2 linked regions of the Homo sapiens genome follow. The protein of the gene in region 2 purifies or fractionates together with the protein of the main gene of each other region. This does not show direct contact. Each region holds a gene or a part of one and is shown on either strand. Other genes may lie near its edges.

Region 1 (4,968 bases), 6.3 Mb from region 2:
CCTTATCTTGGCCCAGCACATGCCTATAGGCCTCACACACATCCTCAGGACCTGGAAGGGGAGGGACGGGGTGGCTGTGACTCCCTGTGGGCCCAGGGAGCATGAGTATGAGGGACACAGGAAGAGGTCTGCAGCCTCACCAAAAATTCCAAGTCCTCCAACAACTCCCTCCTTTCACCTCCACTGGCAAAGGAGAGGACAGGTAATACACAGTGGGGGCCACGGCTGGGGGAAAGGGTCTTCCTTTCTAAGACTGGCGCTCATACCTTTTTGGAGCACAATTTGGCAGCATCCAACAAAGTAATGTTTACCCCAAGCCCAGCAATTCCACTGCTAGGTATCTTTCCTACAAAAATACATCTACAGGCTGGGCACGGTGGCTCATGTCTGTAATCACAGCACTTTGGGAGACCGAAGGCGGTGGATCACCTGAAGTTAGGAGTTCAAGACCAGCCTGGCTAACATAGTGAAACCCTGTCTCTACTAAAAATACAAAAATTAGCCGGGCGGTGGTGGTGCACACCTATAATCCCAGCTACTCAGGAGGCTTAGGCAGGAGGATTGCTTGAACCCAGGAGGCGGAGGTTGCAGTGAGCCAAGATCACACCACTGCACTCCAGCCTGGGCATGGAGCGAGAATCCATCTCAAAAAAAACCAAAACCAACAAAAAACAAAACAACAACAACAAACAAACAATAATAGGTACAAAGTCACATAATATTTCTGTACAAGAGTGCTCGATATTCATTAATTCATCAAATATTTACTGTGCAACTACAGTGCACCCATGGGGCACGGTTCTGGACTTGAACAAAGCCCCTGACCTCAAGCAACCTGCATTGTTATAAAATCAAAACACTGCAAACCACTATGATGTTCAGAGAACTGTGTAAGTCACAGCACCTCTATGCTTAGGAATATTATACAGCAGTGGAAAAGAATGAAGTAGAGCTCAATAAATACCAGAAAAGGTGTGTGGGATTATTACTTAATGAAAGAAGCCGGTTGGAAAGCAGCATATGGACACACGCTGGAGAACATGTAGAATAAAGTTGGGAAGCACACATCCCAACTCGTTAACAGTGACAATCAGATTCAGGCCAGGTGCGGCGTCTCACGCCTATAATCCTAGTACTTTGAGAGGCCAAAGCGGGTGGATTGCTTGAGCCCAGGAGTTCACGACCAGCCTGGGCAGCATGGTGAAACCCTGTCTTTACAAAAAAAAAAAAATTAGCAGGGTGTGGTGGTACATGCCTGTAGTCCCAGCTACTCGTGAGGCTAAGGTGGAAGGATTGCTTGAGCCTGAAAGGTGGAGGCTGCAGTGAGCTGAGATCATGCCACTGCACTCCAGCCCGGGCAACAGAGCAAGACCTTGACTCAAAAAAAAAAAAAAAAAGTCAGATTTAGAGACGGGTAGAGAACTCTCAGGTTTCATTTTCTATACTTCCATATTGTCTGATTATTTAAAAAATAAGCGGCCAGGCACGGTGGCTCACGCCTATAATCCCAGCACTTTGGGAGGCCGAGGCGGGCAGATCACAAGGTCAGGAGATTGAGACCATCCTGGCTAAGACAATGAAACCCTGTCTCTACTAAAAATACAAAAAATTAGCTGGGTGTGGTGGCACATGCCTGCAGTCACAGCTACTTGGGAGGCTGAGGCAGGAGAATCGCCAGAACCCAGGAGGTGGAGGTTGCAGTGACCCGAGGTCACGCCACTGTACTCCAGCCTGAGCAACAGAGCGAGACTCTGTCTCAAAAAAAAAAAAAAAAAAAAAAAAAAAGCATCTTATTACTTGTATACATTTTTAGTTTCTCAAAGGCATTTAGATTTTTACTTGTATTTCTTGTGATTTTGGCAGACTATGTAAAACAACAGCCATCTATATTTGGGGGGAATACAAACTGAATTAATTGGGTGAAATCTATGGTGTTTGGGGTTGGTTTTACAAAACTTCAGCGAGACAGACAAAACAGTGATAATTGTTTAATCTGAGTGACAGGCACATGGGGATTCACAGCACTGCTTTTTGTGTATGTTTGAAATTTTTGATAAGAATTTCTACACATGCTTAAAATGTATTTGAAAAGGTCATTCATCAAATAAAATGACCTCAGGCCAGGTGTTGTGCTGGGGGCACCAGTTCATCAGTTCCAAAGCCCCCACTTCTGACTGTTCTTACTGCGACCCGCCACCCACCAGGGCATCTCCCGGAGTGTAAGCAGGACCTGCCCATGGCCCAAGGCAGGAACAGGAGGTTCCCTGGTAGGCAACCTGGCAACAGGGCACAGATGGCAAGGGGCAGTGGCACAAACTCACCGCAGATGTGGAAGACCTGTGCCCGTTTGGCATCATAGCTGGAGGTATGGAGGACAAGTTTGTGGTCATCAAAGAGGGCTGCAGGGCCCTGCGTCCGCAGGACCATGACAGACATGTCTTCCAGGTCTGTGAAGCCAGACAGAGTGGTAGTGACTCAAGGGAGTCCTGGCCCCTGGCCCCTTCCTCTGCTGCCCAGCTCCCTCCCCAGGTCAGTGGGTATCAAGACCTGGGTCTCCCAGCCCTAGCTTTGTGAAAACCCTGGAAGCCATCAAGAACAAACCATGAAGACATCTATGCTCTCCTGGACTCATGTTTCCTCAATTGCCCAGAGAAACATGAAGTGTGGCATAGCCAGCTGGTGTCTGACACACAACAGGTGCTCCAGAGAAGCAAGGAGGGTAAGGCCATGTGGGCGTCGTGCAGGTAAGGGTTCTGGCCTCCATCCCAGCATCACTCCCTGTGACCCTGGACAAGCCCCTCCCTTCTGGAGCCCCAGCATCCCCATGTCCAATGGTGCCCACTTCAGAAGGCAACCGTGGGCATCTCCCGTGGACAGCACCTAGCATACCCTGGAATATTGCAGCTCATTCTCCATGGGGCTGGAATTCAGGACAGATGGACTTAGCAAGAGGTGGGGGAGTCACAGAAATGTAGGCCAGAGGTGCTGAAGGAGGAGGCCCAGATTTGGGGTTGAGAGGGGAGGCCCCAGATCAGACACAGTCTTCAGGGAGTCTCCTGGCTTCTGAGTCTCAGCATCCTCATCTCTAAATTGGGGTGATGATATTGTCCCACTTGGATGATTCAATGAGAATTTGGGGAAAAGGCCTGGCACACAGTAGGTGCTCAAATAATGCTAGCATCCTCTGCTCCCCTGGAGGAAGAGAATGGCGAGGTGGCTCATTTCCAGAGCTTCTGCCCTGGCATGTGAGTGCTCACTGGCCCTAGAGACACTAGGGAGGGGCAGCTGCCAGCCTGAGATGGGTTTTGAGGAGCATCGAGGTGTGTCTGGAGGCTGGCGCTCTCCCCTGGACTCTGGCCTCAGAGTCTCGCCTGTGGGTTGGAACTCCCATGGGGTAACTGAGCAGTGACCCTGGACACCCAGGGACTCAGGCTGCCCCGGCCTCACCTTGCAGGCAGTGCACGTGCTGGTCACAATTGTCCTGGACATCACAGCTCGGATCATCACGGTCACAGTTCACCAGCAAGATGCCGCCATACCCACTGGGCCCCCAGACCCACTGCCGCTGCCAATGACAAAACATAGCCAGTGATGAGGGCTCAGATGAGACCTGTGCCTCCCTACCCAGGAACCCGAGCCTGGCCTGTAACCACCCAACCCTGTGAGGCTAGGTCCACGTTCTCGAAGCACCTCCTTCTCAAGACATGTCAATGGCAATGGCTCTCTGTTGCCCACACCATCCAGTCCAAAGCACAGAGCTGTCTTTCATGGCTATCTGTGATGGGCCTTCAGCCAACATCCTCTTTCTCAATAGGCAACCTGATTATAGGACCACACGCCTCACTCTGTGCTCATTCCTCCATTAAACCCTCCTTGGTTTTGCTCCTGCCATTCCCTGCACCTGGAACGTCCTCCCTCCTGCACCCCTTCAGAGCTCAGCTCAAGGGTACGTCCCTCCAGGAAGCCTTCCTCACCCACCCAGCCCACCTCGACCTTCTCCTCTTAACTCCCAGGGCACCAAGTTCCAACATAATTCAGTCCCAAGTTCTTCAACAGTTTCATATTTGGTTTCTCTTCTCGCCTAGGTCAGGATCAGCACATTATGAACTGTGGGCCAAATCTGGCCTACTGCCTGTTTGTATAAATAAAGTTTTATTAGCACACAGTCACATCCATCCATTTCTGTATTAACTGTGGCTGCTTTCACACTATAGTGGCAGAATTGAGACCATATGTCCCACAAAGCCTAAAATACTTGCTATGTGACTTTTCACGGAAAAAGTTTGCCCACTCCTGACCTAGTTTATGAGTCCAGAAGGTCTTGATCCCACAAACCAAGGCCTAGCTCAGGGCTGGGTACCTCCATGCCTGATAATTCCTGGCGATGATTTTTCTCCTGGTGAAAGAAGATCCCCAGCCATGCCTGGTTTCTGTTTTTGGCCCTTGGTCTCGGCATCAGCTGGGAGGCAGGGGGATATCTGTAATGGCCTCATCCTTCTTAACCCAACCTAGAGCAAGCTCCAACTGCACTCCTGCTTCCTGGGCCCAGGCAGAGATGCTTACCTTGTCTACAAAGTTCCTGTCCTGCCTTCCCTCACAGTTCAGGTCGCAATCCAGAGAGATGTCTGCAAGAGGAGGCAGAGGGTAAGTCACTACAAGGTTCCCAGGAGCCCAGGGCAGGCCTTGATCTCAGGGCTTGTCTGGGGCTGAGCAAAGGCAAGTCATTTCTAAGGAGACACCATCCAAGAGGTGAGGGCATCTGCACCCTCTGGGCTGGGGAAAGAGGCCTGAGGCAAGAAGCAGGGTCACAGCAAAGGCCCAGGACAAATGCTGCCCCCTCTAGGGAGACTTCCCTGACCACTTCCTATCTGCATCCCTGCAGCCCTTGCAGTCCCAGGCATGCCCTGAACTGAGCCCAGGTCTCCAGGAACATTCTTGTCTATATAAAGCTGCCTCATCTCCTTGGAA
Region 2 (5,420 bases):
ACCATGTTGCCCAGGCTGGTCTCAAACTCCTAAGCTCAAGCGACCCACTCACCTCAGTCTCCCAAAGTGCTGGGATTACAGGCGTGAGCCACTGCACCGAGCCCCCAAATTTCTTTATGTCAGGTAAAACATCACTGAGAGGTGACAGTTGAACCAAGATGGTATGTATGTCACGGAGTCCCGCTGGGCATGGTGGCTTATGCCTATAATCCCAACACTTTGGGAGACTGAGGCAGGAGGATCACTTGAGCCCAGGAGTTTGAGACCAGCCTGGGCAAAATAGCAAGACTCGATGTCTACAAAAAGATTTTAAAATTAACCTGGTGTGGTGGCATGCGCTTGTGGTCCCAGCTACTCAGGAGGCTGAGGTGGGAGGATTGCTTGAGCCTGGGAGGTCTAGGTTGCAATGAGCAATGATTGTCCCACTGCACTCCAGCCTGGGTAACAAAGCGAGACCCTGTCTCAAAAAAAAAGAAAGAGTCCCATGCAAAGACCTGGGGAAGGGCATTCCTCAGCAGAGGAAATAGTCAGTGCACAGCAAACAGTCGGAAATGAGTTTGGTGTGTTTGTGTTTAAGGACTCAAAAGAAGGTCAGTGGAACTAGAGCCAGTGACAGAGGGGCCGCTGGTGGGCAAAAAGGAGAGGGGCAGGCAGGAGCCATGGCCAGGGGTGCAGGCTGGGGTTTTACCATAAAAAATTGTGGGAAGCCCTGGAGAACTCTAAGCAGGGAAGGAAGAGGATCTCACTTTTTTTTTCTTTTTTGAGACTGAGTATCTCACTCTGTCACCCAGGCTGGAGTGCAGTGGCACAGTCTCGGCTCACTGCAATCTCTGCTTCTCAGATTTAAGTGATTCTCGTGCCTCAGCCTCCTGAGTAGCTAGGATTACAGGCGTGTGCCACCACGCCTGGCTAATTTTTGTATTTTTAGTAGAGTCGGGGGTTTCACCATGTTGGCCATGGCTGGTCTTGAGCTCCTGGCTTCAAGTTATTCGCCCACCTCAGCCTCTCAAAATGCTGGGATTACAGGTGTGGGCCACCGCACCCAGGGCAAGGATCTCACATTTTAAAAGACTCTTCGGGCAGCTGAGACTCCAACTATTTAAAATGACTGCAGGCAAGAACCTAAACTTCCCACAAAGAAGCTTTCCTTAGAGGAGTTCAGGAAATAATCCTGAAGCCAGAAGCTGGAAAGAAAGAATGACAGGGAGAGATTGGCAGAATGTGGAGCATTGAGAAAGCTCCTGCCTCCTGGCGGGAGTGAGGTTGGTTCAACCACTCTTGGGAACTGGTAGAATCTACTAAGACTGAACATTCCTCCACCCTTCGACCCAGCGCTTCCTCTCCAACTGCAAGGCAAGCACAAGGGCATCAGAGGACACGTGCAAGACTGTTGACAGCAGTGCTATTATTTCCTGTAACCTGGAAACCACCCCAGCGCCCAGCAGTGGTAGAATGGACCCATTGTGGTCTACTCCTACAATGGAATACTGAACTGCAATGAAAAGAAAGAAACTACTATTGGACGGGTGCAGTGGCTCACGCCTGTAATCCCAGCACTTTGGGAAGCGGAGGCGGGCGGATCACTTGAGGTCAGGGGTTTGAGAGCAGCCTAGCCAACATGGTGAAACCCTATCTCTACTAAAAATACGAAATTAGCCAGGTGCGGTGGCGCATGCCTGTAATCCCAGCTACTCAGGAGGCTGAGGCAGGAAAATCGCTTGAACCTGGGAGGTGGAGGTTGTGGTGAGCCGAGATCTCACCATTGCGCTCCAGCCTGGGCAACAAGAGCAAAACTCCGTCTCAAAAAAAAGAAAGAAAGAAAGTTAACAGTTTAAAAAGCAATGTGAAAAGGCAGGAATGGGTGCTGCATTTCCTTCTAGGGCTGCCCTCGTTGAGCCATTCGATTCCTGGGTGGGCAGAGGGCCAGGGCCTCAGGCCCAGCCCAGGGAGGCCAAATGCCAGGGCCCACAGTCTCCCCAGAGTGGGTTGGCAAAGAATGACAGGACTGGTTCCCCAGCCTGGAATCTAAGCTGAGCCTGCAGCCTTTGAGCTGGGAGGAGCTTGCGGCTGCCTGGCTGCCCCGCTGCCCCGCTTCATTCGCTGAATTCAGAAGCGCCTGTGGCGAGCCTCTCCCATGGACGGCCGGGTACCCGCCCTGGGCTCTGCTGCCTGGACACTGAGCCCAATGCGGAATTCCTCTCCCAGCAGCGGGGAGGCGCTATTATTAGTTGATTAATTTGCAAAACAAAAACCTGGCTGGGGCAATTGGTCTTGAAGGAAGGTTCTCCCAGAGCGAGTAAATCTGAGACAGGACCAGAAGAATAATCTTGGGGAAAAGGAAAGTGGCTGACTCTGGTGCTGAGTCCCGGCCTTGCCAGGGACCCCGACTCTGCTGTTACACAGGGAATGCTGTCTGGAATCGGCCCGGTGGCAGGTGGGGGGTAGACAGCTCTCCCCTCCGTCTGATGCCTGCTCCTGTTCTCCTCCTTGAGCATCAATCGGGAGAAAGATGTGGGTTTGGGTTTTTCCCCCTCACTTCTCAGACCCAGAACTGCCCCATCCCAGTCTGGGGGGAGACATGATGCTCCATCCCCCAAAGCTGAGCCCCCTCATGGGGCATCCAGGAGAAGGCAATGGGTCCCCAGGACAGGGCCCGGACCTCCCCCTTGCTCGCCCAGCCCCACAAAGCCCCACTCAGCTTCTCCACTGCCTTCATTGTCTACAGACTTCAACCTCACAAAACGCCCAACAAAAGCCCTGCAGTCCACGGCCCAAAGGCCACAAGCCAGCTATTGTGACATTCCAGCTGGCCTGGGAGGCTTCACTTCCCACTCTCAGGAGCTTTTTAAAGTATCTCTTAAAAATGCATCTCAGATGGGGAAAAGAGGTAGCAATTCTGTTGCCAAGGAAAATGAGATTTTGGCCAAGTGCAGTGAGTCATGCCCGTAATCCCAATACTTTGGGAGGCCGAGACAGGAGGATGGCTTGAACCCAGGAGTTTAAGACCAGCCTGGGCAACACAGTAAGACCCTGTCTCTACAAAAAAATTAAAAAATTACCAAAGTGTGGTGGCACATGCCTATGGTCCCAGCTACTCAGGAGGCTAAAGTGGGATGATCACTTGAGCCCAGGAGTTAAGAGATGACAGTGAACTATGATCTTGCCACTGCACTCCAGCCTGGGCAACAGAGCAAGACTCTATCTCAGGAAGAAGGAGAGACAGAGAGGGAGAGAGAGAGAGAAAGAGAAAAGAAAGGAAAGGGAAGGAAGGAAGGAGAAAGGAAGGAAGGCAGGGAGGGAAGGAAGGAAGGGAGGGAAGGAAGGAAAATGAAATTTTCTCCTAATCCTTACAATCGAATAGCTAGCGACCACAACTCCTATCATTTGAAAACTCCTTGAAATCAAGCATCTCTTGGTCAACTTGACCCCTAATTTGTTTTGTTTTAAGGACCCTCTAGGACAAGGAAGACGTGTTCTGTTTTCTCCCAATCTTCTGGAAATCCTTCCCAAGATGGGAGGACTGGAATTCCAGAACAAGGGATGACAGGAGCATGAGAAAGGTGGGAGAGACTGTGGCCGGACCTCACCTGAGAAAGTCAGCCCTTCCCAAGGCATCCATGCATCTGGGCCCCTCACCCATTTGGCCCCCTTCCCTCTTAGATGCAAGGCTTCTGATTCTGATGGAAGATATTTGGCTTCTTCAAGGAGTGTGGGCACACTAAGCATGCCACTGGCTTCTCCCAATTCCTGAATAAGGGACACTTACCAGGCAAGTGCTGGGGACCCCCACATCCTCAGGCCCAGCAGCTCTCTCCTGCCCTGGGAGAATTTAATCTGAAGCAGTTCCAAGCAACTAAACGAAAGGTTGGCTCCTCCCCTTCCCCTCCAGTGCAGGTCTCGGGTCACTCAGGTGCCAGAAAACACAGGTGGGTGTCAACACTCTCAGCTTCTCCCCATCCCTCTGCATGGGTGAGATGAATTGCTTCAGCCGTGGGAGCTCAAAATAAGATTGCGGATCAGAAGGCTGAAGATGAATTGATCCACTGAGGCTGGAGTGCAGGCCCTCATTCTCCGCTCCCGGGAGAAGCCTGTCTCTGTGCCCAAGGAAGGAAAGAAGCTAAGAAACTGAGCTTCACCGGAGGAACAGTCACGCTGTCTTGATGGGGCTTCCCAGAACCCTGCTCCAGGCCCCTCCTGGCAGAGTTCAAAAGGAGCTGAGGGGCCAGGCATGGTGGCTCATGCCTGTAACCCCAGCATTTTGGGATGCAGAGATGGGCAGATTGTTTGAGGTCAGGAGTTCGAAACAAGCCAGGGGAACATGGCAAGACCCTGTCTCTACAAAAAATTTAAAAACTAGCTGGGCATGGTGGCACACACCTGTGGTCCTAGCTACTCAGGAGGCTGAGGTGAGAGGATTGCTTGAGCCCAGGAGGTTGAGGCTGCAGTGAGCCCTGATTGTGCTACTGCACTCCAGCCTGGGCAACAGAACAAGACCCTGTCTAAAAAAAAAAAAAAAAGGGGCCGGGCACAGTCACTCATGCCCATAATCCCAGTGATTTGGGAGGGCGAGGCAGGCTGATCACCTGATGTCAGGACTTCGAGACCAGCCTGGCCAACATGGTGAAACCTTATCTCTACTAAAAATACAAAACTAGCCAGGTGTGGGGGTGCACGCCTGTAATCCCAGCTACTTGGGAAGTTAAGGCAGGAGAATTGCTTGAACCCGGGAGATGGAGGTTGCAGTGAGCCAAGATCGTACCATTGTACTGCAGCCTGGGTGACAAGAGCAAAACTCCGTCTAAAAAAAAAAAAAAAAAAAAAAAAAAAAAAAAAAAAAAAAAAAAAGACCAGGCGCAGTGACTCACGCCTGTAATCCTAGCACTTTGGGAGGCTGAGGTGGGTGGATCATCAGGTCAGGAGTTTGAGACCAGCCTGGCCAACATGGTGAAACCCTGTCTCTACCAAAAATACAAAAAATAGCCGGGCTTGGTGGTGGGCACCTGTAATCCCAGCTACTCTGGAGGCTGAGGCAGGAGAATCGCTTGAACCTGGAAGGCAGAGATTGCAGACAGCTGAGATCGTGCCATTGCACTCCAGCCTGGGCGATACAATAAGACTCCGTCTCAAAAAAAAAAAAAAAAAGGAAGAGGAGATTAGGGCACGGACACATACGGAGGAATGACGGTGTGAGGACACAGGGAGAAGATGGCCAGCTGTGAGCCAGAGAGGCAGCTCCGGAGAAACCAGCCCTGCCTGCACCTTGATCTCAGACTCCTAGCCTCTAGAACTGTGAAGAAATCAATTGGTGTGTAAATCCCAAGTCTGTGGTACTCTGTCGTGGCAGCCCTTGCAAACAAATATCCCTGCAAAATGAGGATTTAGGACTAGATGGTTCCTAATACCCTTTGCAAGTGAAAAAA

What was found.
Region 1: the proteins of CIROZ (region 2) and PADI3 purify together in Homo sapiens (affinity purification with mass spectrometry; one large-scale study listed by BioGRID and IntAct). This does not show direct contact.

The regions. Positions count from the first base shown.
Region 1 is NC_000001.11:17,265,316-17,270,283, reverse strand, and holds part of PADI3 (protein-arginine deiminase type-3), read right to left. Parts: intron 4,626-4,968; coding exon 4,564-4,625; intron 4,218-4,563; exon of another isoform or gene 3,988-4,217; intron 3,566-3,987; coding exon 3,448-3,565; intron 2,448-3,447; coding exon 2,322-2,447; intron 52-2,321; coding exon 1-51. UniProt on the Homo sapiens protein: Catalyzes the deimination of arginine residues of proteins.
Region 2 is NC_000001.11:10,978,246-10,983,665, forward strand, and holds the start of CIROZ (ciliated left-right organizer ZP-N domains-containing protein isoform 1 precursor), read right to left. Parts: upstream 3,832-5,420; 5' UTR 3,793-3,831; coding exon 3,767-3,792; intron 1-3,766. UniProt on the Homo sapiens protein: Plays a role in left-right patterning process.